3 separate regions of the Homo sapiens genome follow, and regions 1 and 2 are each linked to region 3. Evidence: fine-mapped expression QTL. A gene starts in region 3. Each other region holds a variant in brackets. All regions are shown on one strand. Distances are between the middles of the regions. Region 1 has its middle 18 kb from the start of LINC01304. Region 2 has its middle 6.8 kb from the start of TRAPPC12-AS1. Region 3 holds the start of ADI1 (acireductone dioxygenase 1).

Region 1 (2,762 bases), 470 kb before region 3:
TATATAGTTTTCATAATGGTGAGAAATTGAACTTGTTTGGCCTAAGACTGGAAACGAGTCAAGAATGTCCCCTTCTCATCACTCCTATTTAATATCATGCTGGAATTCCTACCTAGTGCATGAAATAAAGGAACTAAATAAATAAAGAAATAAAACTATTTCTAGTCACAGATGATATGATTATCTATGTAAAACATTCTAAAGAATCATAACACTCCTGGAACTAATAAACGAGCATAGCAAGGTCACAGGAGACAAGGTTAACCTATAAAAGTCAACTGCTGTCCTATATATGAGAAATGAACATTGGGATTCAAGATTTTTTTTAATATATCTGTTCCAATAACCTGCTCCTCTCCCAAAATTAAATACTTAGGTATATATCCAACAGAGTATGTACAGAATCTATACATAAAAAACTACAAAGAAAATCTAAATAACCGGGGAGATATTCAGTATCCATGCATCAGAAAATTCAATATTGTTAAGGTATTAATTCTATCCAACTTGACTTATGGACTCAACATGATTCCAGTCAAAATCTCAGAAAGTTATTTTGTAGAAATCAACAAGTTGATTTTAAAGTTTATATGAAAAGATGAGACCTAGAACAAACAATACAATAAAATAGAAAAAAAAAAGTTGAAATACTTAACACTACCAATTTCAAGATTTGTTGTAAAGCTACAGTAATCAATACCACATGATACTCATGAAAGAAAAGACAAATAGATCAATAGGGAACAGAATAGAGGGCCCAGAAATAGACCCACATAAATATAGTTAGCTGATACTTGACAAAGGAGCAAAGGCAATTCAGTGAAGAAAGGGTAGTCTTTTCAACACATGGTGCTTTAACATTTGGATGTCCATATCCCAAAAAAAGAACCTATATGCAGACATTACACCTTTCACAAACATTAACTGAAAATGAATCATACGCCTAAATGAAAAATACAACACTAAAAAACTCTTAAAGGGAAACCTTTGTTTCCTTGGATTTTGTGATAAATTTTCAGCTACAACACTAGAAGCAGTTTCGTGAAAGAAAGCATTTAGGTTGGACTAATTAAAATTTAAAGATTCTGCTCTATAAAATATACTATTAAGTGATTGATAACACAAGCCTCAAACCTGGAGAAAATATATGAAAACCACATATCTAATTACAGATTTGTATCCAGAATATATAAAGAACTTTTACATTCAATAACAAGAAAACAACCCAAGGAAAAAGCAGACAAAATATCTGAACAGATACCTCACCAGAGACAATATACAAATGGCAAATAAGCATATAAAAGGTTCTCAATATCACTTGCATTAGAAAACTGCAAATTAAAACAACACTCTTAAGGGCAAAATATTTTTTAAAAACGGACAATGCCAAATGCTGGCAAGTTCCCATAGACTTCTGGACACCTTCTGTGCTGACAATTGGAAGTCATTAAGAAAGTTTCTCAAAGGTGTTTTTGTGTCTTCAACTTTTGATAGGAATCACGTTCTATATAAAAGCTGTTGGCCTCAGTAGAGAACATTTGAACAACTCATAAACAATCTTAACTAAACATACGTAGAGAATTTTAACCAAGAATTATAGAATAAATAT[T/C]TTTAATGCATGAAACATTTAATTTATAAAAATTTAATACCTAAAAAACCACAAGGCAAGACATCACAAATGGCAAAAAAATTGATATTTTACAGATCACAGTTTCTGACTACAGTACAATTGTGCTGGAAATCAGTGACAAGCCACAGCAATGCCCAAACATTCTTTTTTCATTATTATTTTTCTTGTAACATTTTTAATAAATCATAAAAAATCATAATAAAAATTAAAAACTACTTAAGATTTAACTTAAGAAAATACTATATATCTAAATTTGTGGTATGCTGATAAAATATTGGGAAGTTTATATTCCTAAGCACTTTTATTAGAAAATAAGAAAAACTGAAAGTAATCATCTGATATGGTTTGGCTGCATCCCCACCCAAATCTCATCTTGAACTGTGGTTCCCATAATTTCCGTGTGCTGTGCAAGGGACCTGGTGGGACGTAATTGAATCATGGGGGCGGGTTTTTCCCTTGCTATTCTCATGATAGTGAATAAGTCTCATGAGACCTGATGGTTTCATAAGGAGTAATTTCCCTACACATGCTTTCTTGCCTGCTTCCATGTAAGACATGCCTTTGCTCCTCTTTTGCCTTCTGCCATGATTGTGAGGCCTCCCCAGTCATGTGGAATTGTGAGTCAATTAAACCTCTTTTTCTTTATAAATTACCCACTCTTGGGTATGTCTTTATTAGCAACATGGGAACAGGATAATACAGTAAACTGGTATAAGAAGTGGGGTGCTGCTATAAGGATACCCAAAAATGTGGAAGCGACTTTGAAACTGGGTAACAAGGAGAGGTTGGAACAGTTTGGAGGGATCAGAAGAAGACAGGAAAATGTAGGAAAGTTTTAAACTTCCTAGAGACTTGGAGGGATCAGAAGACAGGAAAAGGGGGGAAGTTTGGAACTTCCTGGAGACTTATTGAATGGCTTTTACCTAAATGCTGATAATAATAAGGACATTAAAGTCCAGGCTGAGGTGGTCTCAGATGGAGATGAGGAACTTTTGGTGAACTGGAGTAAAGGTCACTCTTGCTATGCAGAGAGACTAGCAGCATTTTGCCTCAGCCCTAGAGATCTGTGGAACTTTGAACTTGAGAGAGATGATTTAAGGTATCTGGTGGAATAAATTTCTAAGCAGCTAAG
Region 2 (2,762 bases), 30 kb after region 3:
AGACCTGGAGTTTTTTCTGGTGTTCCTTAAAAGCATCTGATGAATATTGGGATGAATTTCCTGAAGAACTTGGAGGAGACTTTCTCCTTTCTGAAAATTAAACGTTCAGATCAGCACATGATAGGAATCTGGGTGGTGGAGGAGAAGATGTGGGTCAGTCTCCCCAGTGCCCCAAATCCAGTGAAATGACAACAATTTTTTAAAAAATTAAGTGTGTTGTTTTAAAAAATACAACCACAAGTTTCTGACGATCTCCCTCAATTTATCCTCCCCTTCAGCATGGTCTCTGTTGGTCACTTGTTTCTAATGAGTAGGAAGCGGCTGAGGTGGCTGTGGGTGGCCTCTGTTGGCATGTAGTTTCCTGCTTGCTCTCAGACATTGCGCTCTGGGGAAGCTGGCTGCCACGTCCGCAGGACACTTGTGCAGCTCTCTGGGGAGGTCTGAGGCCTCTGCCAGCAGTGCTGCTGGCTCGGGGTGTGTGGAAGCAGGTCCTCCAGCCCCCGTTGAGCCTTCAGATGATGCAGCCCCAGCCGTCACCTTGAGGGCAACCTCAGGAGAGCCCCACACCACCCAGCTAACCCGGAGACTGCAGGCGAGAATGTATGTTCCTGTCATAAGGCACAAGTTTCAGAGCAGTGTTGTTACATGGCGTAGGTAACTGGTGCCTAAGTGTGACTCCCTAACCACAGTGCTCACCTCCACTCAAGAAACTGCTGACGGTGGATCAGACATCTTGACAAAGAGAAACCAATGGAACAGACATCTGAGAAATAGGAGAAGAGCTGTCCTAGTCAGGCAACGTCCGGCCTCGGAGTGGATGGGGAAGGATGGAGGCAGACAGGTGGGATCGCAGTGGGGGGTGCATTCTGTCCCCGCTCCCCAGGCTGTGCGGACCCACAGGGCAGAGGCTGCCGGCCTGCTGTTCCCTCCTGCACAGTGCCTGGGGCGCCAGGCTCATGGGGTGCTCTCAGTGGAGAGGTTAGAGGGACTAGGAAGGAAGACCTCTTGTCCCAGGCAACCTGCAGAGGCCGGGAGCCCTGGGGGGAGGTCCTGGGAGGAGCCCTGGGGGGAGGTCCTGGGAGGAGCCCTGAGGGAGGCTCTGGCCCTGCATCTGCCTGGAGCTTTGCCCAGGATTGCCGTTCTCGTCTTCCCAGGATTCCGACTCTGTGCTTCGAAATGTCGTTACACGATCTCTTCTGTTGTCTTAGTTGGGGCTCTTTTTGTTACAAGTGACAGAAGCCCAATGTGAAGGAGCCTGTGCCTGGGGGTGCCTGCCCTGGGGGATCAGGGACCAAGCCACGTCTGCTCACGGTGGGACACAGTGTAGACACAGTGTTGACGTCTTAAAGCCTTACTTCTCATTCCATTACGCAGAGGAGTGACTTCAGCTGCCAGCCCTGGTCCCCAAGGCTCCAGGAGAGGTTCTGTGGGACTAGACCCAGGTCAGCGGCTCTGACAGGGACAGGATCGCGCAGCGCAGACATGGCCGTCGGCTGAAGGGCCTCCTGTGGTGCGCAGGCCACTGCCGGCTCATGTCCAGGTCATCTCTCCCGCGCTGCAAATCCTGCTTGCCCAAAGTAAAAATGGAGCGTGTAAAGTTAGCACGGTGGACATTTGTGCACTTATGGGACAGAGGAGGCTTGAACTTCATTCCGAGGGGAAAGAAGCCAGCCCTGGCTTTCTTACTCTGTTAGATAACCCTGTCTCTCTAGGTTTCAAAAATATCTTCATCCC[A/T]TCGCAAGTGACCAGGAGGGACTTCTGGGCCTCACCCAACTCACTACCGCAGTGAGTCGCTAGTACTGGTAAGATGACCTGTGGGTTGGGTCAAGGGCTCCCGGAGTCCTCTGCCTGCTATGATGCGTGAAGTTCTTCCATTCACCATGTCTCTCAGTGAAACTCGGTCCCACAAGCCCCTCCGGGAGAGCTGGTTTTGTCCCCTGAGTGCCGAGATGCATAAGAAAGTGGCTGGTGGGTTCCTCAGGACGCCACAGTCCAGTGAGGAGAGCAGAGGGTGCAGCAGCCCTTACGGCCGGGTGAGGGGTACGGGGGCTCCAGGCAGGCACAGCTGCTGAGAGAGAGGGGTCGGGGCAGTCGTCACCATCAAGTGGATGGCTGAGGCAGGACGTCCCTGCGGGCTGATTGTCCCTGGTCCTGACCAGATTTGCTGTGACCACCTGGCTGGGCCCTGAAGAGGGCAGAGGAATTGCTCAGGTGGGGCCAGGGCACAGGGCTGAGGCCTGCAGTCGGGCCGTGCCAGGTTGCAGATAACATCCGGGGCACCCCTGAGCAGGCGGCTCTTCTGAATCGCTCTGTGTTTTGCTCTCTGTTTTCTGCCTTGGGAAGTGATTATTTTTCAAAACATTCTCTTAAACGTGGCGGGGGCAGGGCACTAGAAGCATCCAGGCATGAAGACAGCCCCCAGGTCAGCAGGGCTGGGGAAGCTGGGCTGGGCGGGGGCTGGAGGACAGGAGGCTGTGCTCCTATCACGGTCTGTCCCTGGCGTGAGCAGTGCAGGTGTGACAGTTCTGGGGTGGAGCTTACTTTTCAACTGAAACCACTTTCCCATGGACGTGCTTGCCTGCCTGCCTTTATTATTATAGTTTAATGTGTTTCATTGTCCATGTTAAAAATGCTTGTGTTTATTTTGCACCAACTGTTCAAAAAAACCCACCCATTCTAAAATCCAAATAGGATTTCATCTGAGTTATAAACCCACCCATTCTAAAATCCAAATAGGATTTCATCTGAGTTATAAACCCACC
Region 3 (2,762 bases):
AAGCAACATGACTTGCTGATAGATTGGATTGGATCTTGAGGGTGAGGAAAAGCAAAACTGAGAGTACACCTAGATTTTTTTATTAAGCCACTGGGCAGTCAGTGCTGCCGTTCACTGAGACGGGAAAGGTTAGGGAGAAGCATGTTTGGGGGTGTGTGTGGGGAATCAGTTGTTTTGGCCATGTTAGGTTTGACACACTGATTAGCCATGTATGTGACAACACCAACTGGATACTCAAGCCTGAGGTTCTGGAATGAGGTCCAGGTTGGAGATGTGGCTGCAGGAGCCGGCAGCACAGCATGGAAAGTCGCCTGGAGTGAGTGGATAGGAACAGGACGAGGAGAGTCTGGAACGCTCCACTAACCAGTGGTTAGAGGAGCAGGAGCTAGGAGGGGCCTGGGAAGGAGCAGCCAAGATGCCCTCATGAAGGAAAATGAGAAAATGTTTCAAGAAGGGCGTGGGCAACTGTGACGAATGTTGCTGGTAAGAACAGAAGTGCCATGATTGGATCTGGCAATATGGCAGTCATTAGCAGTTCCCCAGTGGTGAGAAGCGAAGCCTTATTGCAGTGGCTTAAGGAGAAAATGCGAGGTGCGAGATTGCCATTAGATTCTTGCATGAAGGTTTGTCATGAGTGCTGCAGAAAAATGGGCAATGGCGTCTAAGGTGTGTTCTTGAAGGATGAGTAGTAACTGGTCAAGTGAAGAGGTGGAGAGGTAGGCTCTCTAAGGAGGATGTATTTGCAAAGCCATTAGAGCAAGGGAACAGAAATGAAATAAGTGTGTATTTTTCTTGCAATATTTCTGGAAGTTCAAGAGTCAATTGCATGCATTGGGGTTGTGCTCTTACAGCAGTCTCATTTAAATCCTGTCTGCTTTATCGTTATTTGTTAAAGAGACTGAGGGAATGGCTGAGATAATCTGATCTTTTTCAACTCGTTGGTTTGAAAAGACATCTAGGATGGTCAAGCGGCTGGACTTTATTAGCTACATTGAAAAATTCAGAATGGGATAGGGGAAGCTTGTTTTTATTCTAAGACTAGCACATTACAGTGTATGGGGAAGGGAGAAACGATGAAAAGAGGAAACAAGAGGAAGTTTAAAAAGTACAGGGTAGCACTGCAGAATGCCGACACTGCAAAAGTCTGGCGAGCGGGGAGGTGGAGGACAATGTCTCACCTGGGATCCGAGCTGTGAAGTCTCAACTGTGCCCATATGGACTGCATGAGCTTAACAAAATCCTTATTCTTTTTTTTTTTTTTTTGCATTTGCTTTCCATACTCTAAACACGTTTAACGTCGTTTGCCTCACAAGATTGCTCTGAAGGTGCAGGGAGACCGCGGCAGCACACACAAGGCACGTGCGATGCCTACGGTGAGCTTCACCTGCCCGGCGCGTCTGGCGAACGGCTGGCCCCGGGCCGCGGGCCTCAGGCAGGTCCGAGGGTGCCCAGGACAGGGTCGGGGCTTGAATGCCTTTGCTTCCGAAAACAGCGGAGCCGTGGGGCCTCCCCCGCGCCGGCCCTGCCTCCAACCAGCCGCCCAATCCCGGCTCCCATGCGCGTCCACGCCTCCCTATAAGATAAAGCGCGGCCGACGGGCTCCGAGCGCGGCCCCTGGGTTCGAACACGGCACCCGCACTGCGCGTCATGGTGCAGGCCTGGTATATGGACGACGCCCCGGGCGACCCGCGGCAACCCCACCGCCCCGACCCCGGCCGCCCAGTGGGCCTGGAGCAGCTGCGGCGGCTCGGGGTGCTCTACTGGAAGGTACGCGAGCCCAAGCCTCGCAGAGCGTGCGGGCGACGCCGACCCCCAAACGCCGCGCACAGCCCAGCCTCCTCCAGGTGCCGGGCAGCGGCCTGGGAGCCGCGGCATGCTGCGCATGCTCAGCAGCGGGATTTGGGGGTTCGTGGCGGCTCCCGGTGCCTGGGGTGGGCTGCGCATGCTCAGCAGTGGGGCTGGGTGGTCAGGGCCTCCTGCGCGGCGCCTGGGTGTGCTGCGCATGCTCAGCAGCGGCGTTGAGGGGTCGGCGGTCAGCCCCCAGCGCCTGTGGTGTGCTGCGCATGCTCAGCAGCGAAGTTTACGGGGTTGGCGGTCGGCTTCCGGCGCCTGGGGTGGGCTGCGCATGCTCAGCAGCGGGGCTGGTGGGGGTCGGCGGTCCGTTTCTGTTGCCTGGGGTGTGCTGCGCATGCTCAGCAGCAGAGTTGGCGAGTCAGGGGCCTCGCAGCCGGGACTCGCTGCGCACGCGCAGCTCCGGGATTGGCAGCGACCTGAAGGGTCGGCCGGCAGGGCTGCAAGATTCGCCGGAGGCGGGCTGCGAGTTCGTGGGCTCGTTGGGCTTGTCCGACGCCCTGCCTGCCTGGCTAACCTCGGTCAAAGGCCCAGGGGTTTCTTCTATCGGAGGAAGGGGGACTCCGCTTGAAAGTGTCCTGGGGGAGGGACCGGGCGCCAGCAGATCGAGGCGGGGTCCTGCCGCGGTCTGTCGGGGATCCCCGGGGGGTAGCGCTCGGTGGTGGGGTGGGGGCGTCTCCAGTGGGCGGTGGAGCTGGCTTGGGTCCCGGCTGGGCCCGGTGTCAGCCCTGCCTCTGTAACGCTAGCTTTGCAAGGCGGGGCTAGGCTTTGCACCGGTGTCCCGTTGCTTGCACAGCACCAGTCCAGATCCGCTCACCTTGTTTATTTGCAAATGGTTTTGCAGTAACAAAGGTTTACTGCAAAAGAGAGGGCCAGGGTAGGCCTCAGGGATAGGCTGAGGGGTGACTGGA

The links.
Region 1: its variant is fine-mapped to the expression of ADI1 in putamen (GTEx, PIP 0.99). The same link has a PIP of 0.9 or more in nucleus accumbens.
Region 2: its variant is fine-mapped to the expression of ADI1 in tibial nerve (GTEx, PIP 0.93).

Annotation. Positions count from the first base shown.
Region 1 is chr2:3,991,121-3,993,882 of GRCh38, reverse strand. No RefSeq gene overlaps it. Among named protein-coding and RNA genes, the nearest start is that of LINC01304, 18 kb to the right of the region's middle. The variant T/C (reference allele first, on the strand shown) is at 1,610.
Region 2 is chr2:3,488,643-3,491,404 of GRCh38, reverse strand. No RefSeq gene overlaps it. Among named protein-coding and RNA genes, the nearest start is that of TRAPPC12-AS1, 6.8 kb to the right of the region's middle. The variant A/T (reference allele first, on the strand shown) is at 1,735.
Region 3 is chr2:3,518,373-3,521,134 of GRCh38, reverse strand. It overlaps ADI1 (acireductone dioxygenase 1), which reads left to right and starts at 1,604. Exons shown (of 4, transcript NM_018269.4): 1 at 1,604-1,767. The coding sequence starts at 1,648. LOC124907725 (a long non-coding RNA gene) reads right to left here and starts at 1,589. Exons shown (of 2, transcript XR_007086195.1): 1 at 1,179-1,589. RefSeq lists enhancers at 896-1,416, 1,417-1,938 and silencers at 1,358-1,487, 1,558-1,877, 1,958-2,017, 2,498-2,697.